7 linked regions of the Homo sapiens genome follow. The protein of the gene in region 7 purifies or fractionates together with the protein of the main gene of each other region. This does not show direct contact. Each region holds a gene or a part of one and is shown on either strand. Other genes may lie near its edges.

What was found.
Region 1: the proteins of ATF2 (region 7) and RAD18 purify together in Homo sapiens (affinity purification with mass spectrometry; 2 studies listed by BioGRID and IntAct, with this or other methods). This does not show direct contact.
Region 2: the proteins of ATF2 (region 7) and HSP90B1 purify together in Homo sapiens (co-immunoprecipitation; 2 studies listed by BioGRID and IntAct, with this or other methods). This does not show direct contact.
Region 3: the proteins of ATF2 (region 7) and CCT3 purify together in Homo sapiens (co-immunoprecipitation; 2 studies listed by BioGRID and IntAct, with this or other methods). This does not show direct contact.
Region 4: the proteins of ATF2 (region 7) and COLGALT1 purify together in Homo sapiens (co-immunoprecipitation; 2 studies listed by BioGRID and IntAct, with this or other methods). This does not show direct contact.
Region 5: the proteins of ATF2 (region 7) and CD44 purify together in Homo sapiens (co-immunoprecipitation; 2 studies listed by BioGRID and IntAct, with this or other methods). This does not show direct contact.
Region 6: the proteins of ATF2 (region 7) and TPM4 purify together in Homo sapiens (co-immunoprecipitation; 2 studies listed by BioGRID and IntAct, with this or other methods). This does not show direct contact.

What each region holds. Positions count from the first base shown.
Region 1 is NC_000003.12:8,942,973-8,946,472, reverse strand, and holds part of RAD18 (E3 ubiquitin-protein ligase RAD18), read left to right. Parts: intron 1-3,500. UniProt on the Homo sapiens protein: E3 ubiquitin-protein ligase involved in postreplication repair of UV-damaged DNA. Postreplication repair functions in gap-filling of a daughter strand on replication of damaged DNA.
Region 2 is NC_000012.12:103,929,131-103,933,209, reverse strand, and holds the start of HSP90B1 (endoplasmin precursor), read right to left. Parts: upstream 2,801-4,079; 5' UTR 2,695-2,800; coding exon 2,646-2,694; intron 1,690-2,645; coding exon 1,587-1,689; intron 934-1,586; coding exon 792-933; intron 385-791; coding exon 268-384; intron 1-267.
Region 3 is NC_000001.11:156,314,293-156,317,792, forward strand, and holds part of CCT3 (T-complex protein 1 subunit gamma), read right to left. Parts: intron 3,256-3,500; coding exon 3,123-3,255; intron 2,956-3,122; coding exon 2,874-2,955; intron 1-2,873. UniProt on the Homo sapiens protein: Component of the chaperonin-containing T-complex (TRiC), a molecular chaperone complex that assists the folding of actin, tubulin and other proteins upon ATP hydrolysis.
Region 4 is NC_000019.10:17,572,649-17,576,148, reverse strand, and holds part of COLGALT1 (procollagen galactosyltransferase 1 precursor), read right to left. Parts: intron 1-3,500. UniProt on the Homo sapiens protein: Beta-galactosyltransferase that transfers beta-galactose to hydroxylysine residues of type I collagen. By acting on collagen glycosylation, facilitates the formation of collagen triple helix. Also involved in the biosynthesis of collagen type IV.
Region 5 is NC_000011.10:35,201,671-35,205,170, reverse strand, and holds part of CD44 (CD44 antigen isoform 1 precursor), read right to left. Parts: coding exon 3,384-3,500; exon of another isoform or gene 2,627-3,383; intron 660-2,626; coding exon 531-659; intron 1-530. UniProt on the Homo sapiens protein: Cell-surface receptor that plays a role in cell-cell interactions, cell adhesion and migration, helping them to sense and respond to changes in the tissue microenvironment.
Region 6 is NC_000019.10:16,093,495-16,096,994, reverse strand, and holds part of TPM4 (tropomyosin alpha-4 chain), read right to left. Parts: intron 3,460-3,500; coding exon 3,397-3,459; intron 3,312-3,396; coding exon 3,242-3,311; intron 1,732-3,241; coding exon of another isoform or gene 1,649-1,731; exon of another isoform or gene 251-1,648; intron 1-250. UniProt on the Homo sapiens protein: Binds to actin filaments in muscle and non-muscle cells. Plays a central role, in association with the troponin complex, in the calcium dependent regulation of vertebrate striated muscle contraction.
Region 7 is NC_000002.12:175,112,704-175,116,203, forward strand, and holds part of ATF2 (cyclic AMP-dependent transcription factor ATF-2), read right to left. Parts: intron 2,166-3,500; coding exon 1,987-2,165; coding exon of another isoform or gene 1,983-1,986; exon of another isoform or gene 1,540-1,982; intron 1,406-1,539; coding exon 1,291-1,405; intron 1-1,290. UniProt on the Homo sapiens protein: Transcriptional activator which regulates the transcription of various genes, including those involved in anti-apoptosis, cell growth, and DNA damage response.

The sequences.
Region 1 (3,500 bases), on a different chromosome or scaffold from region 7:
ATAGTGGTCAGGTGCCCCTGTAGTTAAGTGTAATCATGTGTTGCTTAACAGGGATGTGTTCTGAGAAATGTGTCATTAGGCAATTTGGTTGCTGTGTGAACATCATACGGTGTACTTACACAAACCAACATGGTATAGCCTACTACACTCCTATTCTATATGGCAGGGCCTATTGCTCCTTGGTAACAAAACCTGTACAGCATGTTACTATAGCTAATACGGTAGGCAGTTGCAACACAATGGTACCTATTAGTGTATCTAAACATAGAAAAAGTACAGGGAAAATATGGTATAAAAGATAAAAAATGGTACATCTTTATAGGGCATTTACTATGAATGGAGCTTTCAGGACTGAAAGTTACTCTTGATGAGTCAATGAGTGAGTGATAAGTGAATGTGAAGGCCTAAGGCCCTTACCATACACTACTGTAGACTTTATAAACACTGTACACTTAGACTACACACTAAATTTATAAAAAAGTTTCTTCAATAATTAACCTTACTGTAACTTTTACACTTTGTAAACTTTTATATTTTTTTAACTTTTTGACTCTTTTGTAATAACACTTAGCTTAAAACACAAACACATCGTATAGCTGTATAAGCATCTTTCTTTATATCCTTATTCTGTGAGGTTTTTTCTGTTTTTAAAAATTGTTATTATTTTTTCCTTTTTAAACTTTTTCTTAAAAATGAAGATGGAGGCCGGGCTTGGTGGCTGACGCCTGTAATCCCAGCACTTTCGGAGGCCGAGGTGGGTGGATCACGAGGTCAGGAGATCGAGACCATCCTGGCCAACATGGTGAAACCCTGTCTCTACTAAAAATACAAAAATTAGCTGGGCATGGTGGCACACACCTGTAATCCCAGCTACTTGGGAGGCTGAGGCAGGAGAATCGCTTGAACCAGGGAGTTGGAGGTTGCAGTGAGCCGAGATCACGCCACTGCACTCCAGCCTGGCGACAGAGTAAGACTCCGTCTCAAAAAAAAAAAAAAAAAAAAAAGAAGATGGAAACACACACATTAGCCTAGGCCCACACAGGGTTAGGATTATCAAGATGTCACTTAGCAATGGGAATTTTTCAGCTCCATTATCGTCTAATGAAACCACCACTGTGTATTTGGTCTCTTGTTGAACAAAGCATGTTGGAACATTCTATGAGGTACCTTATGTTGCTTTTAAAAATATAAACAGATTTCTTTCAATAGAATTACACATTTCTTTATTGGTTTGCATTCTAAAAACGATCAAATTTAGTACAGTTGTCTCTCAGTAAAGGGGATTGGTCCCAGGACCCCTGAGAATACCAAAATCTGTGGATGCTGAAGTCCCTGACATAAAATGGCATAGTATTTGCATATGCACATCCTCCCTTATACTTTAAATCACCTCTAGGTTACTTATAGTCCTAATACAATGCTATATAAATCGTTGTCATACTGTGTTTTTAAAATTTATATTATTTTTCATTGTTGTATTGTTACTTTTATTATTTTTTGAACATTTTTGCTCTGTGATTAGTTGAATCCACAGATGCAGAGCTGGTGGATGGGAAGGGCCGACTACAGTTTATTGTTTAGCCAAATGGTTCTAGACTGCTGTTTACATGTTTCTGATCAGAACAAGCATTGCAGGACTTTAGTTACAGAAGTCCATGGAATTGATTGCATAGATTTAATGGCTGCCCATGTCTACCCAAAGGCCTATTTTGACTCTTGATTCTTAGCCCCATTCTGAAGAGGTAAGGTTATTGTATAGTTAACAGATGGACAAGACTTTTCCTTCCTTCCTTCCTTCCTCCCTCCCTCCCTCCCTCTCTGCTTTCCTTTCTTCCTCCCTCCTTTCCTTTCTCCCTCCCTCCTCCTTTCTCCTTCCCCTCTCTATTCCTCCCTCCCCCGTCTATTCCTCCCTCCCTTTCCTTCCCTTCCTCCCTTTCCTCTCTTCTTCTTGCTCTGTTGCCCAGACTGCAGTGCAGTGGCATGATCATGGTTCACTGTAACCTCGAACTCTTGGGCTCAAGGGATCCTCCTGCCTCTGCCTCCCAATTAGCTAGGACTATGGGTATGTGCCACCATGTCCACACTGAAGAAATAAACAAAGCTTCCTTAAATATGTGGTAGAATTTACCAGTGAAGCCATCTGGGCTTGGAGTTTTCTTTGTGGAAAAGTTTTAAATTATAGCTTCTGTTTCTTTAACAGATAATAAGGGCTCTTCAGGTTTTCTGTTTCTTTGTCAGTTTTGATGAATAGTGCTTTTCAAAGAATTTGTCCATTTTATCTAAAATTTAAAATTTGTTGTTTTAAAGTGTTCATAATATCCTCTAATTATCTTCTTTATAGGATTTGTAACGAGGTCTTCTTTTAATTCTTTGTTTTGGTAATTTGTATTTTCTCTCATTTATTTCTTGTTCAGTCTTAGTAGGGATTAACAGTTTTGTTAATTTTTTCAAAGAACCAATGTTTGGCTTTGCTTGTTTTCTCTTGTTATCTCTTCTATTTCACTAGTATCTGTTATTAGTTTCTCTCTTCTTTGGGTTTAGTTTGCTGTTCATTTCCTAACCTTTTAAGTTGGAAGCTTAGAGTGGTGGTTTTTACTTTTTCTATTTTCAATAATTTTCCCTCCAGGGACAGTTTTGGCAACCCTTCATGCTATCGTTCAGTTTAGAATATTTTTCTAGTTTTCATTGTGATTTGACATGCGGGGTTATTTAGAAGTGTGGTGCTTTATTTCTTAACATTTGGAGATTTTCTAGTTATTTTTCTGTTGTTGCGTTTCATGTAAATTCGGTAGTGGTGGAATCTATGGGTTGATTTTTTTTTTCTATCAGATTTGAAAATTCTCAGCCATTGGTTTTTCTAGTATTGCTGATTTCCCATTCTTTCTTTCTGTTCCTTCTGGGCTTTTAATTATGCCCAATATCTCATACTTTTTTGTGTTTGTCTTTTTCATTCATTTTTCTCTCTGTGCTTGGTTTGGATATTTTCTATTGACCTGCCTTCAAGTTTGTATTGTGTGTTGTTATACTCATCCAATTTAGATATGGTATTTTGCAGTTGTAGAATGTTCATTTTATTCTTTTTTATGGATTTTATTTCTCATAATACACTATCTTTTTATCCCTTTTCTTTTTTTTTCTTTAACATGTTTATCATAGTTTGAAGTCCTTACCTAGAGATGCTATTCTTTGGATTACCTCTGGGTCTGCTTCTATTGAATATTTTATCTCTTGATTAGTGGCTACTTTTTCTTGCTTCTTTGCATGTTCAATAATTTTAAAATATGTGCTGAACATTGTGGTTGAAACGTTGTAGAAGCTGTGAATTGTCTTCTTTTGAAAGATGTCACATTTTGTTCTAAGAGGCAGTTAAATTATCAGCTCTTCATCTTTGTTCTGTCAAGGCCTGGTATAATGTTTTCTTAGGTTAGGTCTGTTTGAGCTTTGTTTATATTTCTTCAGTGTGGTCCATTTTTCTAAGGTGTGGTCTTTGTGGGGTGTCA
Region 2 (4,079 bases), on a different chromosome or scaffold from region 7:
TGTTCTCTGTTAAAACAACTTGACTCTGCTGTTGAAGCACAGAAGCAGTCACAGATAATAAACAAATGGGCATGGCTGCATTCCAATAAAACTACTTAGAAAAACAAGTCAAGTTAGATTTGGCCATAGTTTGATGACTTTCAAGCCACTGAGACTTGGGGTTTTTTTGCCACTGCAAAATAATCTAGCCTATCTTGACTGATAGGGATCCTCTACCTTTAAGGATTCCTTTTCCTTTAAAAGAAAGAAAAACTGCCTTACACTTACCTTAATTTTGACTGTTAGTTCCTCATTTCCAGAAAGAGCATTTTCATCAGTCAGTGATATTAGCCTTATCTTATCTAAAGCATCAGAAGCATTTGAAATCAGTTCTCTCAGGAAAATCTAAATGGAAGCCAGAGGGAATACACTTAGACTATCCTCAAGATGCATTAAGATATTCGATTTTATGCCAAACCCATTTATTTCTTCTCTGTACCTTATAAAAGCACTCTTATTCACCTAACAGTGATCTTCAGGTATGCAATGCAAGAAGTTTAGTTTATGTGACTGCCCTTAGACTCACAACTATTATCAGGCCGTGAACCTATTTAGAGGTAAAGGAAAAGGAAAATGTCTGACACTCCCTTTCTTCCCAGATATCTGGTAGCAATTCTTGGACATATTAGGTATTTAAAGGTTGTTACCTACTTACTTGGATACTACATTACTTTTGCAGTAAATTAAGCAAATTTAAGTAAACAAGTATGCCACCATACAGAGATAAAATATTCTAACCACATGTTGCTTACCTCTTTATTTTTATACAATGAATTGATGATAAGTTTCATCATTCTGTTAACTTCGGCTTGGAAGGCAAACTTTTCCGACTTCTCTCTAAGTTCTCTTATTTGTGATGCATTTAATCCATCCAACTGAATAGCTTCTTCCTCTCTAAGGAAATCAGTTAGGTAAGCAAATATTGCATGGCATAGTTCCCTTCAAAACTAGAGGAATTATGATGAAAGCACAGGGGCCTCTGAATATTGTCTTGGGGGTTAAAATGGAAACCTTTATAAAATATAACTGATATACCGTCTCATTATGTTAGCACAGCAGTAGGCTACCTTTAACATTACACTGGAAATACTCGGTTCTTAAAATTGCCAGAAAAAAAAAAATCCCAACTTTCCTCTACTAAAAAGCAAAGTCATACTCATTTATGCTCCACAGTGAGGACTTCAAAACTGTCAATAAGTCCCAAGAGGCCAAATTTTAAAATATTGTTCAACTGACAGAAATCCCATTTTTAAACTTACTCGGTGTACACAGTTAATGAATACAAATCCAACTGAAAGTATCTTCTATAAAGTCTTACAAAGTTTATGGTGCTAGTATTCTGCAATATAGTTTTCAAAGGAATTCACTCAGTTTTCATCACTCCTAGGGACAAGTTAGGAGGTATGTATGCACACAACTCACCGGGTATTTAAATACAGGGTGTTAGACTTTATCTGGACCTTTGGAGAAGAGATACATAAGAAGTGACCGTAACTCACAAGGTTCACACGGCTTATCTGTATACGTAAGTTCAAATGAACACAAACCTCTGTACTACTTCATCATCCGTCCTTGATCCTTCTCTACTTTTACCCAGATCCTCTTCTACTGTACCATCCACATCAACTTCATCGTCAGCTCTGACCGACCCTGAAGATTTAACACGGGCAAACTCTTCAACATCACACTTCTCCAAGGAGGATGATCAAATAGGGAAGGGTAGGGGTTGCAAAATTCAGTTGGTAACTAAGGGAGGTGGGGATGAAAGAGTGCATTCCCTGGTTTAAATACCAAAGGTAAAGCCAAGACAGAACATCTATTTAAGTTCAGATGCTGAAGTCTCCAGTAGATCCTGAAATACGGAGGCAGTCACCACTTCTAAACAGTGTGTCTCCGATCATTTATAAATAACGTTAAGCAGACTGATACCAGGCCTCTTCTACACCCACACGTGTTGCGCGCAGGCCGAGCCAAGGCCTCCCAACTGATCAAGCCAAAACTTCGGCCTTCGTTAGCACAGGTCAGAATGCAAATAGGATTTATGCAACCTCTGGCGAGGGGAACTGAAATTGAGCCCAGAGGCATGAGAAGGGGGAGAAATGTTAAGAACCGAACTCCAGCAAAACTGAATCAAACACGCTGACACTGCCATTCCGCTGGCCCCAGGCCTCACGCTCCCGAGGCCAGCATCTAAGAAGGGACACGGGCTTGCGAGGAGTCGGAGTCTGGGGAATTAGGGGACGGGAAAGCTGGGATGGCCGAAGGTTGCGGTGGCCGAAAAAGTCCTCCGGGCGGGGAGGGGGGAGGGACTCGCACAGCTCCCGGGGGAGCCAGAGCCTCAGAGAGGCCCCACCCCGAGGTCGCTGAGACCTCCGGGCGAGATACTATTAGATCTGTAGGGCAGTTAGATGATGTTGCTCTCTTTTTTTATTTCCAGAGGAAGAAGAGAATAAACGTAATTCCCTTGCCCTCTTTCGAGGAATGGTGACGTCCCTTGGCCCACCGCAGGCCCCGGGATCCCCCCTCCCACGTTCAACGCCCCCAGGACCTTCGAGAAGCGGCCGCGTGTGTGGAGGGGGGACGTCTGCTCCTCCAGAATCACTCACCGAAGGTCAGCAGGACGCAGCAGAGGCCCAGCACCCACAGGGCCCTCATGGCGTGCGGCCGGTGAGTCTCAAGTCCCCTTCGATCGCAGGAGCCGCCTCCACCCCCCACCCCTGGGTTCGGATCCTCACACCTCCAGCCGCGCGGTCCGCCCACTACACCGCAAGCAGGTCGGGCCGCTTTTCACCCCCACTTCCCGCGGGCGGGGGACGGGAAACATGAACCCACCAATCGCGCCGCACCACGCACCCACGGCACCCAATGAGGATTCGTGAGGGGGGGCGGAAGTCCACCAATCGGAGCTGTCCAGGTGCGGTGACCGATGCCCGAAGCGTGGCTCCTTCCGATTGGTCAGGGTTTGCAGCTTTTCTCCAATCAAATGGCTCCGCGGGCCCCTCACACGTGGGACCGCCCCTTTGCCTGGGCGGCCTTGGCCTCTAAGGGAAAACGTCCAATGAATGTAAGCAGAGAACACATCCATCCTTTTAGAGAGGTCGCGGCGGAACTACTTCCGGATCCTAGAGAGCGTTTATTCCGTGACCGGGGAAACGGTAGCCATGGCAACGTGTTCTTCACCCTTTCCCATCTATGCCTGGGGTTTCGTTGGAAGTGATTCCAGCACGACTTTCGCGGCCAGCTTTCTCGTGTGGCGGCGCTTCTCGGAAAGAAGAAACACACGAGAGAGGTTGCAAATCCCCTAGAACCCTTTCAGATGGCGGGGGGGCGGGGGGGTGGCGGTGGTGAGAAACTACAGCTCCCGGCATGCAACGTCCTAGGGGTTCACTGCATTGAATGCTGGGGGTCGTAGTCTTTGGTCTCTGAGGACCAGCTGCGTAGTTTTGGCCCTTTCTTTCACGTTCCCCCAGCGTGTCTTTGCCAGAGCCCTGCCCTGCGTCTTAGATGTTACATCTCGTTCTGATTACAGTAGAGATATGTGCCTATTCCAGGAGTCTCCATTGTACACAGCTTTTAGAAGCGGGCCTAGAAAGCCTTCATGCCTCGGGCAAGGCCGCCCGGTTCTGGGGGGTCGGTCTGAGTCTGGGGGCTCCGCCTCCGGCTCAAGAGCACGAGTTTCCGAATCCGCCTACAAGTGCGTCACTTGGGCAGCCGGAGCGTTCACCTCCTCTGTGCCTTTCCGCGGCCGGAATCCCCAGGCCTTCCTTATCTGGTTTACAGAAGAACGTGGTTGGGACCTTCCCGACCACCTTAGGGAAATCGCGAGCAGCGCTGAGGCCTTCGACTCCCCAATAAAGTACAAAGGCGGCGGTGACCTGACGGTCGTAGAACCCTTTCTGTGAATCAGGTGGAGAGCGTGGTCGTAAAAGCGGGTCTAGCACAGAAAAGGAAAACCCTTAGTTTAACGAGTGCAGGAGGATGCACCTGCAGATATTTGAAAGCAAAACCTGTGGTGCTGCACATGAGAACGGGATTGCAGC
Region 3 (3,500 bases), on a different chromosome or scaffold from region 7:
CAATCAAGGAAATCATGAAAGAGACTGTGGATGTGGCTAAAAAAACTGGCATAGCGGTGGTGAAGGGTTTCAAGATATGAATCTTGGAGAAACTCAAGAGCTAACAGACATTACATCAGAGGAATTAACACAAGATGACAGGCCAGGTGCAGTGGCTCACGCCTGTAATCCCAGCACTTTGGGAGGCTGAGGTGGGTGGATCACCTGAGGTCGGGAGTTCAAGACCAGCCTGACCAACATGGAGAAACCCCGTCTCTACTAAAAATACAAAATTAGCTGGGCTTGGTGGCTCACGCCTGTAATCCCAGCTACTCGGGAGGCTGAGACAGGAGAATCGTTTGAACCCAGGAGGCGGAGGTTGTGGTGAGCCAAGATTGTGCCACTGCACTCCAGCGTGGGCGACAAGAGCGAAACTCCATCTCAAAAAAATAAAAAATAAAAACAAAAAAAACCAAACAGAAGATGACTTGATGGAGACGACTGCTTCCAAAGCAGTGCCAGACGATGAGGAAGATGATGTAGAAGCAGCAGTGCCAGAAAACAAACTGACATTAGACAATCTGGCAGAAGGCTTCTGATTATTCAAGACTGCTTTTGACTTCTTTTATGATATGGACCCTTCTATGATAGAGGCACTGAAACTGAAGCAGTGGAAGAGGGACTGGTACTATACAGAAATATTTTTAGAGAAACAAAAAAGCAGAAGTCAGACAAATCACGATGTATTTCCATTGAGTTACACTGAGTGTGCCTCCTGCCCATCCTGCCTCCCCTTCTACCACTCTTCTGCCTCTGACACCCAAGACAGAAAGACCAGCCCGTTCTTCCTCCACAGCCTATTCAACATGAAGATGATGATGACCTTTTTGATGATCTACTTCCACTTAAGGCATAGTAAATGTGTTATCTCTTCCTTATGATTTTCTTTTTTTGGAGACGGACTTTCACTCTTGTCGCCCAGGTTGGAGTGCAATGGCACCATCTCAGCTTACTGCAACCTCCGCCTCCTTGGTTCAAGCAATTCTCCTGCCTCAGCCTCCCGAGTAGCTGGGATTACAGGCATGCACCACCACACCTAGCTAATTTTTGTATTATTATTAGAGATGGGGTTTCACCATGTTGGCCAGGCTGGTCTTGAACTCCTCACCTCAGGTGATCCACCTGCCTTGGCCTCCCAAAGTGCTGGGATTACAGGCATGAGCCACCGTGCCCTGCCCTTATGATTTTCTTAATAACATTTTCTCTAGCTTACTTTATTTAAGGGAATACAGTATATAACACATATGATATACAAAATATGTGATAGTTAATTGTGTTATTGGTAAGGGTTCGGGTCAACGGTCAGCTATTAGGAGTGGGGGAGTCAAAAAATTATACATGGATTTTCAACTCCTTGGGGACTGATTCCCCTAACCCCCAAGTTGTTCAAGGGTCAACTGTACACTTAAGGCAACTAGTCATCACTACTATAACCAGATATAGTTGAATTCAAAATATACTTTGTGGTTACTAAAATCTGGACAAATTAGTTCTCATGCATATCTAACATGTACATATTTCAACTAGAGAATTAGAACCTGCAAAAAAGAAAGATAAAAGAAAAAAATTAACATGTCTATACTATATAATGGTAACTTCTAGATATAACCCATCCTGTACTGCCCAGTTGAGTCTCCAGGCGAATAATAAAGACTGTACCAAAGATGCAAAGGTCAAGCAAGGAGGAAGGCGAATAAACATGTAAGTAGAGTTGGCCCTCTATATCCGCAGGTCCCGCATCCAGATTCCACCAACCATGCACTGATAACATGGCAGGGGGGGTGGGGTGGGGGGATGGACAATAATACAACGGCAAAAAATAATATAAATTTTAAAGACAATATAGTATAGCAACTATTTATATAGCATTTATGCTATATTAGGCATTATAAGCAATCTAAAGGTGATTTAAAGTGTATAGAAGGATGTGTATAGGTTATACACAAATACCATACCATTTTATATAAGGGTTAAGCATCCACAAACTTTAGTATTCAAGGGGGCGGGGATCCTAGAACCAATGCCCTGTGGATATCAAGGGATGACTGCATACGTCTGACCGAAGTTTAATGAATGTAGGACTAATTGCTTGTCACTCCCTCCAACTCATGGCCATGTGAAGTCAACTATGTGTATGCATGTTAATACCCTTTGGGGTATAAAAGTATAAAATATGATTTGGATCTGTGATATATTATGTTGGGGTAGATTTGTCAGCTTTTTGATAAATTAAAAATGAATGAACTTTGCTGGGCATGGTGGCGCATGCCAATAGTTTCAGGTACTGGAAAGGCTGACAACAGGATGACTGCTTGAGCCCAGGAGTTTGAGACAGGCCTAGGTAACACAGCAAGACCTTGTCTATTAAAAAGAATGGTCTATGAGCACAGACATCAGTGCAGAAGTAGTGAATGCAATCTAGAATCGCATAAATCGCAGCTAAGGATGTAGCTGAGGAAACTGATGGTTCTGCTATAATCCAGGCCACTTAGGATACTCTGGAAATGTTCATTCAAAAATCATCATAATGACATTAAAGAAAACCTCTTAGATAGGCAGTTATTTAGAAATGTAACGGACACCCACCAAGGTAGCAATTACAAATGTCTAAGCACAAGCTGCTCACTAATGGTTAGGGGCAGTACAGATGAGACTCACGCAGTAAATAACTGTTGGACTAGAGGACTTCTGAAGAGGGCAGGCAGCTAAGCCAAGGTTATTTCTACCTGTTACTATATCCTTTATTAAACCTTTTCAGGTAATGATGACTGTTACGCAACTACAAAAAGGAAACACACGGGAAGAAAAGTCTTGTTTTTACCTGGCCTACTCACCTAGCAATGCGATTATTGTCTGTCTTCCGGACTCTGCGGATGGCTGTGATATTGGCCCGCATAAGGTAGTGCTGAGCTAAATCTACAAATCCAAGAGTAGAGATGTCAAGCTGGGTTCTGAACTGGTTTTATAATCAAAGTACTCTTAACCATGACACTATTACGCCCCTGCCAAACATGAGGGGAGAAAACAAATCACCCACCCTCGTCTACCTCAAAGGTAGGCTGGAAAAAGTAACAAAGTCCCACCTGAGATGCCCTTTTCAGTGATGACCACATCGGGCTTCAGTTGGATAATGTCCTCACAGAGCTGCTGGATGTACTCTTCCTCCATCTGGAGAATTCGGGTGAAGTCCTCCTCTCGTGTAATCTCAATGTCAGTCTGTGTGGTAAAGAAAAGACACTGATTTTAAAATCCCTGGACTGGTGAAGCTCTAAGGGTCATATTATACTCCTTCCACCCACCTCTCCCACGTATCTCAGAGTCAGAATTATGTTAAAGCCATGACCTCAACACCTCTGTAAGCCAATTTAGCTTTAGTTTTGCTTTTTTTTTTTTTTGAGACGGAATCTTGCTCTGTCACCCAGGCTGGAGTGTAATGGCGCGATCTTGGCTCACTGCAAGCT
Region 4 (3,500 bases), on a different chromosome or scaffold from region 7:
CTAGTGCCCAACACAGGGGCTTGGCACACAGCAGGCACTCAGTAATTGCTTGTAGAATGAACCAAGAAATGATGGCATGCTGTATATTCTTGATTGGCCTGGGCCTCAGCTTTCCTCATCTATAAAATGGGCCAATAAGCCACTGAGAGGTTTCACAAAGAGATGTCATGAGATCATGCACTATGTCATGGGGTGAACTGTGTCTCCCCAGTGCCAACCACCAGTACCCCAGGATATGATCCTATTTGGACACAGGGTTGTGTACAGAGGTCATCGAGTTAAAATGAGGTCATTAGGGTGGGCCCTAATCCACATGGCTTGTGTGCTTTTAAAAGGGGAAATCTGTAGCTCCTTGGGAGGCTGAGGCAGAAGGATTGCCCAGGAGTTCAAGGCTGCAGCGAGCTATGATGGTGACACTGCACTCCAGCCTGGGTGACAGAGACTCCATCTCCAAAAAAAGCAAAAAAGAAGGCCGGGCACAGTGGTTCATGCCTGTAATCCCAGCACTTTGGGAGGCTGAGGTGGGCAGATCATGAGGTCAGGAGTTCGAGACCAGCCTGGCCAACATACTGAAACCCTGTCCCCACTAAAAATACAAAAAACTAGCTGGGCGCAGTGGCTCATGCCTGTAATCCCAGCACTTTGGGAGGCCGAGGCAGGTGGCTCACAAGGTCAGGAGATCGAGGCCATCCAGGTTAACACAGTGAAACCCCATCTCCAATAAAAATACAAAAAATTAGCCGGATGTGGTAGCAGGCGCCTGTAGTCCCAGCTACTCGGGAGGCTGAGGCAGGAGAATGGCGTGAACCCAGGAAGCGGAGCTTGCAGTGAGCCGAGATCGGGCCACTGCACTCCAGCCTGGGAGACAGAGCGAGACTCCGTCTCAAAAAAAACAAACAAACAAAAAATAATAAAAATAAAAATACAAAAAATTAGCCAGGCGTGGTGGCAAGCGCCTGTTAAACTCAGCTACTTGGGAAGGTGGGGCAGAATCACTTGAACCTGGGAGGCGGAGGTTGCAGTGAGCCAAGATCGCACCATTGCACTCCAGCCCAGGCGACAGTGCAAGACTCCATCTCAAAAAAATAAAAACCAAAAAAACCAAAAACCTAAATTAACAAATTAGCTGAGCATGGTAGTGGCATGCACCTGTGGTCTCAGCTACTTAGGAGGCTGAGGTGGAAGGATCGCTTGAGTCAAGGAGGTTGAGGCTGCAGTGAGCTGTGATTTTGCCACTGCATTCCAGCCTGGGTAACAGCGAGACTCTGTCTCAAAAAAAGGAAATGACAACACAAATATATGTGAGAACTTAAACTGGGAAAACTCTGGTAGCCACAGAGACGCTTCTCAGGCCCGTTTCTGATGGGAGTTGGTGATAAATGGAGACCCACCACCCCCAACTGTAGCCGGGTGGGACCTGGACACCTAAGTATGCCACTCTTGGGTGTTGTGGGGGGCCTGCCCCAGTGATTGTGCAGTCTCCAGGTGTCACCTCAAAAAGACTCAAAAGTCTCCCCCAGGCCAGGCGCAGTGACACACGCCTGTAATCCCAGCATTCTGGGAGGCCGAGGCAGGTGGATCACCTGAGGACAGGAGTTCGAGGCCAGCCTGGCTAACATGGTGAAACCCCGTCTCTACTAAAAATACAAAATTTGCCAGGTGTGGTGGCAGGTACCTGTAATCCCAACTACTCGGGAGGCTGAGGCAGGGGAATCGCTTGAACCCAGGAGGCGGAGGTTTCAAGTGAGCCCAGAATGCGCCACTGCATTCCAGCCTGGGTGACAAAGTGAGACACCGTCTCAAAAAAAAAAAAAAAGTCTCCCCAAAACACAAAGGGCAGGGTGCTATTCCATCTTGAGCCACCAGGGGGAGCCGCAGATAGACTCGTTCAGAAATCGGTAAGGCTGGGGAAACTGAGCCCCGGGACAGAGGCCTCACCCCTCCCACCCAGTCTCCATCTACGCAGTGGTGGGAATGGCAGTGGCTTTGGCAGGGCTTTCTGCGCCCAGTGCAGGGCGAGGCCCACATTAGCAATGGCTGAGATGGGAGCATCATCCCTAGACAACCTCAATTACAGCTCAGCCCTGCGTGCTCCTCCAGTTTTAGAGGGACGGCTGCTGGTTTCATAGTTCATGGATTTTTTTAAAGTTTTATTTATTTATTTATTGATACAGGGTCTGGCTCTGCTGCCCAGGCTGGAGTGCAGTGAAGCAATCTTGGCTCACTGCAGCTTCGACCTCCTGGGCTCAAGGGATCCTCTCGCCTCAGCCTCCCGAGTAGCTGGGACCACAGGTGTGTGCCATCACGCCTGGCTAATTTTTGTTATTTTTTTTTGGTAAAGACAAGGTTTCACCATGTTGCCCACGATATTCTCAAACTACTGGGTTCCAGGGATCCGCCCACCTTGGCCTCCCAAAGAGCTGGGATAATTATTTTTTATTATTATTATTTTTGAGACAGACTTACTCTATTGCCCAGGCTGTAGTGCAGTGGCACGATTATGGCTCACTGCGGCCTCCAACTCCTGGGCTCAAAGGATTCTCCCACCTCAGCCTCCTGAGTAGCTAGAATACAGGCATGTGCCACCATGTCGGACTAATTAAAAAAAAATTTTTTTTTTTGAGACGGAGTTTCACTCTGTTGCCAGGCTGAAGTGCAGTGGCACGATCTCGGCTCACTGCAACCTCCGCCTCCCAGGTTCAAGTGATTCTCCTGCCTCAGCCTCCCAAGTAGCTGGGACTATAGGCATTCGCTACCACACCCAGCTAATTTTTTTTGTATTTTTAGTAGAGACAGGGTTTCACCATGTTGGTCAGTATGGTCTCCATCTTTTGACCTTGTGATCCGCCCGTCTCGTCCTCCCGAAGTGTTAGGATTACAGGCATGAGCCACCGCACCCGGCCAAAATTTTTTTTAATATAGAGATGGGGTCTCACTATGTTGCCCAGGCTGATCTTGAACTCCTAGGCTCAAGCAATCCTCTTACTTTGGCCTCCCAAAGTGCTGGAATTACAGGTTTGAGTCACCATGCCTGGCCTATACATGCAGTTCTTTAGTGAAAACTTGCTGTCCTCTCAGTTTTCATGTCCTCTATAGCTCCTGACTGTCCTCAGGGGGAAGGTCCCTTCCTCAGCCTGGTCTCTGAGGCCATCCACCCTGGCCCTGGATACCAGCCCCAGGGGATCACTGACCTTGCCTGTTCCCCAGGTTCACGTCCCTTCCAGCCTCCCGGCCTTTGCCCACACTACCACCTCCTGCTGCAATCCCCTTTATGGTGAACTCCTACTCAACCTGCCCCTTAATGCCACCTCCTCCAGGAAGCCCACCCGACAACCCCAAGCATGCTGTGTACAGCTACCTGCAAACCAGCACTCTGTGAGAGCAGACACAACCCTCCACCTCGTTCACACGTGCCGTTGCACCCAGCACCCCCCACAGGGACTTGCATCTGCCTGGCACTCAGTCAGTGCTCATGGGACGGATTTGAGACATCAGTGAAA
Region 5 (3,500 bases), on a different chromosome or scaffold from region 7:
AGAAGATACCTTTTTTATACTCAAAAACAAATTACTGAACAGGCATGGCCAAAAGGCCAAATGACATCAGACAGGTGTCACTTTTCACATAATGTCTGGCTCTATTTCTTCAAACACTGGAGTTCTGACAAAATGCTTTCTCACAGCCAGACTTTGCAGAATCATATTGTAAAGTCTGGACCCACATTATAGAGTAGATTCCTTTATACAACAGACAGCGATATTTTATCAGGGCCTCTGCTACAATCTCACTAGATGATGCCCAAAACTCGATGTGAAAGAGACATGTTCAAGGGCATTTTCTCTGTGTTTCCTGTTCTTATTCATAACTGGCTTGTATCCATTCCTGTTCAGGTGACTTGTTATGAGCCTTTAAGGTTTGGCTCTGTGTGAACTGCAGCATAATTTATTAAGTAACCTAACATCTCGTGACAATTCCTCCAGTGTCCTTTTGTTCAATGTCCTCAATGTCTACCGTTTAACCCAAAAGGAAGTTTCCATCCAAATTTACTTGTTAAACCATCCATTACCAGCTGTCCCTGTTGTCGAATGGGAGTCTTCTTTGGGTGTTTGGCGATATCCCTCATGCCATCTGTTGCCAAACCACTGTTCCTTCTGGGTAGCTGTTTCTTCCGTTGTACTACTAGGAGTTGCCTGGACTGTGAGAAGAATATCAGTTGGGAGACATAATTGTCTATTTTCCTCACCAATAGCTGTCAACATATCTTTCTACTTTAAGGGCAGATACACATGGGGAGGGAAGGTAGAAAAGAAAGGCACCAAGGAAACAGGCCACTGATATTCTAAAAGGGATATGAGAAATCAAATGATCCAAATGTTTAATTTTTCAGCTAGGAAAATTGTGGTCCAAAGAAGTTTTGATTTGTTCAAAATCATAGGACTAAGCAGACCATAGCTGATGAATTCTCATAGTTCTATGAGTTATTATTATTTTTATTTTACTGTAGTGAATGGCTTCACATACCCTGTCTGAGAAAACCATTCAAAGAATAACCTCTTTGCTCCAGTCATTTTGACGAAAGGAAAACACTGTATAACAGCTAATAACAAGATCAGCACATTAGGAGACCTTCTCAAATGGTGGTCATGTAACCCATAATCGCACACACTGGAAATGCACCAGCAGTGGATTTGCCCAGCAGGAAAGATGGTGGGATGGCTTGGATGCTATTCCACTAACACAGTATTTGGTGATGTCCACATGGCACCTAAAATTGCTAAAATCACTTTTTAACAAAATTAATTCAGTTGACGAAAACTATCCAAGCCAGTTTGAGGCATTATATAAATAATAGTGTGTGACAGGCTTAAAATTTCAACCATCATTTTAAAAAGGACAAAATCAAGAGAATATAATTCCATCAAGGTGTCTTCAGGAAAAGTCAGAAAGACACCAACATTTTTGTCTATAGCAGCTTGTAGCAATTTCTTTTTTTTTTTTAGTTTATCAAGAAAATGAGAGTCTATAAACTTGCCAAGCCAGAGTACTTTTTTGCAACTTGTAAAAATGGTTGTATTTCCTTATCTTAGAAAATGATATGTGTGATTTGGTGACAGTAATGACATTTAAAAAATATAACTGTCCTCATTTTACCCTTCCATCGGCCAAGCCATTATTGGGTTAACTGGTTATCCAGGAGGAGGGGGAAAAAAGCCAAAATCTTAAGTTTTACAAAACTCCCACTGACTAAATCACTAATTCCCAATAAATAATGAAGTTACAAAAACCACTGAATGTAATTACAAAAAAGGGAAAACTGACCCAAACATAGACTGCTATGTTACTCAAAGTTTAAATAAAAGAAATAAGGAAGTGTATGTGTGTGACTGTATAGAACACTATGCTCCTTCTATCACTAATTTTATAAACATAATGATTTTTTTAAGTACCCATAACTCTTAATTGTTTTCAGCCTAAATAGGAATGGGTTAGCAAAACATATGATTTCTATTGTAAAAGATGAAGGTTGACTTTCTTCTAGAAGTTGTGATGTTAATTTGATAAAGCCCAGAGGTCACCAATCAGATCCCTTTGAGTTTCGCAAATATTCATAAGATAATTGTTACAGTTGTTGCTGTCTTCTCTTTGTCAAGTTACATTCTGTCTGAATTTTCACCAACCCTCTAGTCCTAATGCCCCGCAAGCACCACCTTTTGACAATAGGCTCATTATTTCCAAGTCTCTAAAGTAGCTTTCTGGTCTTTAAGTACAAACTGTCTAAAATAATTTCTAAGGTATACTGTTAGGGCTCTAAGGGAGTGGAACAAAATCCTATTCCAAAGAGATTTATGCTTCCTCTGTATTTCCTTTTCTTATCAGACTTCTTTGTTAACTTAACCCCTAAGCCGTATGTATACAACACACCTACTGGGGTTTGTAATGGGATGTAAGATCTGCTGGATATATTCAGTACAATGTCTAACCTCTATCCTAACTGATACCTGAAACTTTTCTTTTGTTATCTGAAGGCACCCCTCAAGCCATAGATTCCCAAAGCCCTTTGGTTTTTAAGTGGCTTTTAAGTGGCTCACATTTCCCCATTAGGTGTATCTAGGGCTGTGAGAATGACAGTTGGGTCATCATTTTAAAAATGCTAAAAAGCTGTTTTCCAAAATAAATACTTTTATTCCAAATAAGATAGACATATCTCAGCGGGATAGATAAAAGAAGAAAAGCACATACTTCTTATGTTTGGGGAGTGAGGGGGCCCCCTATTCTCACAGTCCACTGCCGCAACTTGAGATTGTTTTGGAAAACCTGAGTTTTCATAATAGTAGAAATAACAGTAAGAGCATCAAAGCCTTCCCCAAGTTACCATGGGCTTAAAAACAGAAAAAGAAGCAGTGGTAGAATTCAAATGAAGACCATAAGAGCTACCAACTTTGCTCTAAAGAGTACAAGGGATGTCTTTCTATAGAACAGTCAGGGACAGAATGCAAAAAAGACACTGTATTCATCAAAGATCTTCATAGAAAATAAGGATTCCAAAGATCAATTCACTTGACAAACTTTCTTTCCAGATTCCACTACTAAGCACCAAAAGAACACACTCTTTGCCACACATTTCAATGAACACACACAAGTTACCCAAATGGAACCTCTAGGAACCTTTAACACAAAAATTGTATCTAGATCTACTTCTTAAAACATTTTGGCCTTTGGGCAACCTGATGAGTTATCATTTTCCTTCCAATTTTTAAAATTTGTGTGCGGGTTTAGCAGCTTTTCAGGCTCTAAGAATAAAAGAAATTACCGAGTGGAAATAGAAGATGCGGCCAATTTCTAAACAAAATCTTCCCTATTGCTGGAATGTCTTTACTAATTCATCTAACCCAGAACTGCCGACCGCCATCTTGCTTACTTGTGCTTGTAGAATGTGGGGTCTCTTCTTCCTCATGATGCTCATGGTGAATGAGGGGAGGGTGTGCTTCTGGGTTCCAGTTTCCTTCATAAGCAGTGGTGCCATTTCTGTCTACAT
Region 6 (3,500 bases), on a different chromosome or scaffold from region 7:
GCAACAGAGTGAGACCCTGTCTTGAAAAAAAAAAAAAAAAAAAAAAAAAAAAAAAAAAGAGTGACCTTGTTTTCTCCATATTCCTCATGTAGGAAAAAGCATGACCTTTTATTACCCACAGGTCAACCTTAAGAGCTATTCTAAACTAAAGCAAGGTTCCTGTTATAACTAACTGAAATATGAATGGAGATTGATGTTAGCAGTCTCAGGCAATTCTGGAATTCGGGAAAAGAATTCTAAATTCACGTCTTCTGACGTCACAGCACTTTCCCTGTTCATGGAGGCCCGTTCACTCCTTGTACAGTCAGTTTTCTAAGGGCAGGGCGTGGAGGTGAACTTCCTCCCAGGACTGGGAGCTGGATGAACAGTGAAGAGTAAAGCCACGGGAAGCCCCAGTCACCACACTCACAGTGTAACACAGAGAAAAGACACAAGAAAAGGAGGAAATGGAGATCAAAATGTCACTGCCGCTGTTTGAATCTGTAGCTCAAGCCCCATTCAAGGGGAGCCTCATTTTTGACACAGGCTTGCTGGTTTTTCCAAATCCCTGTTGACTCTTAAGCTGCCTAAGCGGTTTACAAGGATGAGCCTCCATTCACAACAATTTCTATTTAAGGAAAAACCATTGGGGATGGGCGCGGTGGCTCATGCCTGTAATTGCAGCACCCTGGGAGGGTGAGGTGGGCAGACTGCCTGAGCCCAGCAGTTCAAGACCAGCCTGGGCAACATAGTGAAACCCTCCCGCTTCTACAAAAAGTACAAAAATGGCCAGGCGTGATGGCTCAAGCCTGTAATCCCTGCACTTTGGGAGGCCAAGGCAGGCGGATCACAAGGTCAGGAGTTTGAGACCAGCCTGACCAACATGGTGAAACCCTGTCTCTACTAAAAATCCAAAAGAAAAATTAGCCAGGTGTGGTGGTGTATGCCTGTAATCTCAGCTACTTGGGAGGCTGAGGCAGGAGAATTGCTTGAACCCGGGAGGCGGAGGTTGCAGTGAGCCGAGATTGCACCACTGCACTCCAGCCTGGGCGACATAGTGAGACTCCGCCTCAAAAAAAAAAAAAAAAAGTACAAAAATTAGCCTTGTGTGGTGGTGCACACCTGTAGTTCCAGCTACTTGGGAGGTCGAGGTGGGAGGATAGCTTGAGCCTTGTAGGTGGAGGTTGCAGTGAACTATGATGGTGTCACTGCACTCCAGCCTGGGTGACAAAGCAAGACCCTGTCTCAAAACAAAAAAACAAAAAAAAATTATTGGCATGCAGATGCCGTTAGCTAACAGCGGTATCTGAGAGCACATGCCCAGTTTGCTTTTGTTTTCACGTCTTCAGAAAAGCATCCTGTAGGCATAATTTTCTTTTTGTAATAAGCTTTTCATTTGTGAGTGAGAGAGGCTAACCACCCACTTTGTGTTTCAGGCTATGGTTAAGGGCACACAGCTACAGCTCAAAGGCAGCAAGTGGAGAAAATGAGAATGAGGGGGCATGAAGAGGAGGACTGCCCGTCTTTATTTCGGTTGTAGAGTCACAGACACATCAGAAGAAGGCTCTGACGTTCAAACCAGAAGGCAGGCCACCGGAGCTCCTAGAAGCCCACAGGGGCGTAGGAGGCACCATGTGAGAAGGACAGAGGGCAGCGACCTGGCTGCCTCTCAGAGAGAGGTCATGTCGTTGAGAGCGTGGTCCAGTTCCTCGCTGATAGCTTTGTACTTGAGCTTCTGAGCGTATAACTCATCTAGAGGGCGGAGGTCCCCAGGGAGACAGTTCAGAAGTACAGGGGACAGAAGGCAAGGGTCGGAATGGAGTGCCACAGATGAACCACAAGAGGAAGAAAAAAACACGTGAGCAAACAAAGCACAGACTAGGAGAAAGCTGTGTTCCATGTGAAACAGATGAAGAAAACCAAAGATCTATGGAGTTGATCTCTAAGTGGTTTGAGGTTCTGCAGGGGGATTAGCCACAATGAAGCTTCAAAACAGTGGTAACCAGAAGTGACAGAGCTTCCCCCCACTGGTCCCCACCCCTCAGTTTATTTCGGATTTCCAATGACGTCACCCTGTCCAAAGGTCGTATTTTGGAATGGGGCATTTTCCCTTATATGGGAACCTCACTTCCCCAAAAAAACATTGGAAGATATGGTCTGAAGAATGTGTCCTTTCTGGGTGGGATGGGCAGTTTGGAAGATTCCATTTGAACCCCAAGATTCTGGAATTTCTGAGGCCGAATGTTAAACACTGGAACTCTTGAAAAAATTCTGGGAGAAGTGGGCCCCAGACTTGCAGACTAGTCTTTATTGCAGTCCCTACACTTTCTGTATTTCTGTTTTTTTTTTTAAATACTATGATAAGCTTTGAGCTCCCTGGGACAGAGCTTCTGCAAAAATGCAAGGCATGTAAAAAAAAAATGCAAGGCATCTATCAGAAATGAGCAAACAGAAGGAAATTGTGAAGTTTTTTTTTTTTTGAGACGGAGTCTGGCTCTGTCACCCAGGCTGGAGAGCTGTGGCGTGATCTTGGCTTACTGCAACCTCCGCCTCCCAGGTTCAAGGGATTCTCCCTGCCTCAGCCTCCCCAGTAGCTAGGATTACAGGCGTGCACCACCACGCCTGGCTAATTTTTTCTATTTTTGGTAGAGACGGGGTTTCACCATGTTGGCCAGGTTAGTCTCAAACTCCTGATTTCAAGTGATCCGCCCGCCTCGGCCTCCCAAAGTGCTAGGATTACAGGCTTGAGCCACTGCGCCTGGCCTGAGATTTTTAATTTATTATTAATATTTTTTTAATCAGAGAGAGCCATACTCTTTTCTCTATACTTGCTCATGGGACTAACTAAGCAGAGATATTTTACCTCCTGAAAGTGGCAATTCAATTAGCCAGGTGTGGCGGCACACGCCTGTAGTCCCAGCTACCTGGGAGGCTGAGGCAGGAGAATCACTTGAACCCGGGAGGCGCAGGTTGCAGTGAGCCGAGATGGCGCCACTGCACTCCATCCAGCCTGGGAGACAGAGCCAGACTCCGTCTCATAGAAAAAAAAAAAAAAAAAAAAAAGGGCCATTCAAGCCTGAATGCTTTGCATTATCCTATTCCAGTGTTCCAGGACATCCAGATATGACATCACTATGCGCTTTACTTTCCTAAGGCAAACAAAGCCCAACCCAGCCCCTCCACAAACATTCCCCAACTGTCCGTGGATGTGTCCCAGAGGGGAAGGCAGGGCAAGGCAAACATTTAGATGGTAACCTCATACCTTCCAGGTCATCAATTGTCTTTTCCAGTTTTGCAACCGTTCTCTCTGCAAATTCAGCACGGGTCTCAGCCTAGATAAGAAGAAAGGAGTTACTATCATGGCTTCAAGACCAGCCCCAGGAGAAACCAGAGCTCGCTGGGTGCCACCACACTCACCTCTTTCAGTTTGTCAGACAGAAGTTTAATTTCTTCTTCATATTTGTCCTCCTTTTCAGAATACTGTGGGAGAAACCAAAACACTGCTTTAAGAAAAGGAGGCC
Region 7 (3,500 bases):
CTTCTGAGTAGCTGAGACTACAGGTGCTTCCATCACAACTGGCTAATTTGTGTTTATTTTTTGTAGAGATGGGGTTTTGCCATGTTGCCCAGCCTGGTCTTGAACTCCTGGACTTAGGCAAGCCACCCACCCTGGTCTCCCAAAGTGCTGGGATTACAGGCATGAGCCACTGCACTTGGCCTAAAAATAATTTTTAAAAGCTACACTGTAAATGATTACACTGTACTGATCAGTAACAAGCATCTTAGAAGGTAAAAGAAAAAACTATCTTTTTATTACATAAATAAGTACCTAATGCTTGGTGTAAGATTTCCAGGGAGAGAATAATAGAGAGATTCATAAAGTAATATCGTAAATGATTTAGATGAAAAAGAAAATACTGTGTTCTGGAAACTGTGCTAGATGTCTCAAAAAGTGGTTCTCAGGATGAAAATTTGAATGTCAAAGACATAACTGAAGAGTTTGTTTGAATAAAACTGTTTTATGTAATGTAAGTAAGAAAAAAGCAATTTTCTAACACACATTATTCCAAACAATGTGTTTTTAAATGTTCATTAAACTATTACTTTTTTTTTTTTTTTGACTTGGGGTCTTGCCCTGTCATCCAGGCAGGATCCATAGCTCACTGCAGTCTCAAACGCCTGGGCTCACACAATCCTCCTACCTCAGCCGCCCAATACGCTGGGATTACAACAGGCATGAGTTGCCATGCCTGGCCAAACTATTAAATATCATAAGTAGATAGTTAACTATTTTGTCTACGTCTTTCAAAATTTATATATTTAACACACCCCTCAAAAAACTTTTTTGCGGGGTCTTTTCACAGGGAAAGTGAAAGATTATTTTTCTAGAACATTTACATTTTAACATGCTGGGCTATCAAAGATTCTACAAACCCTACTTGACCACAAAAATTCAGAGTGTGTCTTTATAAACAATTTCCATACTAATAGAAATACCACAGAGTTACCTGACAAGTATTCTAGTACAAATATCTTTCTAAAATTTGAAATCTGTGTTAATATTTGAATGCTACAAGTCCAGTCAAATTGATATGGGTTGAATAAGAAGATCTCAGTATAAAAAAAAAATTAAGGTTTTGGGGAGAAGAGAAAAAATAGCTATACCTTGAATGGTATATGCTATTACAATGATAACAAATAAATACTATCAACTGCTAATCAATATTATGTTAAATTCAATTTCATAAGCCAGTCAAGCAGCCAACTTTATTTTCTGACTACAAAGATCAGTTTTGCGATAGAGATTTAAATAGTCTAACTTTCTTACTGGGACTGCAGCTGGAACATGCACATTAGAACTTGTAATTGATGCAGGAATAGCAACAGGCATGGTTTGTCCATTAGGAAGATGTAACAGAAGAGGAAATGGGCCTGGTACAGGGCTAAGAAAAACAAAAGAAGAGAAATTTTAAAAAAGAGATTCATACCAACTGTCTCTTAAAAATACAATAGTATTTTTACTCCTATAATCATATCATTTAAAAATACATTTTCTAACCACAGCAAAGCAAATAGCAAAATTTAATTATTTTTAATTGCATCTTAAATGCATAACCTGTGTAGCAGTATTGAAAAGAAGAGAAAAGTTATGGATTTACTTAGGACAATCTCCAATTTGTAAAATGAGAAAAACTGTCATCAGAGAGCTCTTGGGAGCTACCAGTAAGAACTGAAAGAAATGGAATCTGGTGATGCAGTAATTTTATATTTTGTGTGAAATAGCATGAAAATAAGACTATCTTAAATTCACATTCTATATTTGTTTTTAGTTGTATTTATCTCCCACTCTGTTAGTTAATATTTATATTAAAGAAGACTACGCAAGTACTTTTTCCAAAATTCGAAGCATGCACACACATACAAAACTAAGATCTTAGTTTGAATAATCAAATGTCTTAGGAAAAATCATTACAAAACAAACTTAATTCATGTATATGTTCAATGATTGGCCTGAATCACTTACACAATTGGCCTGTTAGAGGATGGTGCCTGGGTGATTACAGTACTTGAGGTTGGTGAAGGTACTGCCTGCTGAATAATTACACTTGAGTCAGAACTTGTAAGCAGCACATTGGGAACCTGTAATGATGCTGGACGAACAATAGCTGATGTGGGCTGTGCAGTTTGTGCCAATGGTACTTCCTATTTAACAATGAGATAAAAAAGGGTGGCATTTAAAAATACAAATCATGTACCTTAGTGAACAGAATGTAACACACTTCTAAAAGCATCTACAGAATAATAACTGCTAAAAGCAAATTAATATCTCAAATTAATTAAAAGAACATTTTAGAAGAGCTGTAAAGATTCAAATGCAATGTTCAATTAATATTTTAATTTTAAAAAGACTCGTTTTTTTTTTTTCCAGTACAACTTGTTCTCCTATCAATCCAGAAATAAGTTAGACTGGGCAACTTGGCTATGATACCAAGAGAATTTTAATAAAAAATAAAAATATAATCCATTCTCAGAGAATCACAGAACTTAAAATCCAGAAGGGACTGTTTAGTCCCCCTCCCTCATTATACTGTATGAAGAGGAAACAGGTCCAGTGAGACTGTGTTATGGCTGATACAATTAAGTAACAGAAATAAGAACTTTTAGAGCAATACAAATAATTGTTAATTCCAGTTAGCTACCTCTTCTATATCAATAATTTCTTCATATCAAAAGGCCACGTAATACTGATATCTTGAATGTAAAATAAATAATTACCGGAGTGAACTCTTTCAAGTCAGGAAAACAGAATTTGTCAGCCAAGACCTTAAAGATGGTATTTCCTCTGGTTTTACAAATTATAGAACAAAAAGTTTTAAAAGATTTTACCCAGAACTCCTTAAATAGTCAGTGTAAAAATTGGGTCTATGGTGTTTTATGAATTGGCCTGTATGCTGCCACTTATCATCAAAATCTTATTAAGCTACATAGGAAGAAGGATAAAGTAGTAGTATTGTAACTTCATTTATTCAGTAAGTTGAGAACTTATGCTCCCAAGGACTAGCTCTCAAGGAAGAGACAATAAACAAGTAAAACAAGTAAGAAAATTTCAGATTGTAGTAAATGTTAAGTGTTACAGAATAATACGTGCAATGTAACAAAGGATGAAAGATTAGCTGAAGGTAAGGAAGAGTCAGTTAATTTAGACAGCATAGTAAGAATAGGTGAGCTTCTTTGCAAAAACAGCATTCGAACTGATGATAAAAGGATGAGGAGGAGAGCATTTCATTGTAGGGAGAAGGAAGCAATACCATATATGTCATGTCCTGAGGTAGGAAAAAGCTTTGAATATTTGATGAACACAATAGAGAGGCATGAGGTAAGGATAGATGCGTAGACAGGCCCAGATCAAAGAGGGCTTATGCCAAGGAGTGTGAATTATTTTAAATACAATGGTAGACCATTGAAAGATTTTAAGCAGGTGACATATTTAATGTATTAAAAGTCATCTTACAGAAAATGGATTGGAGGTAGAAGCAG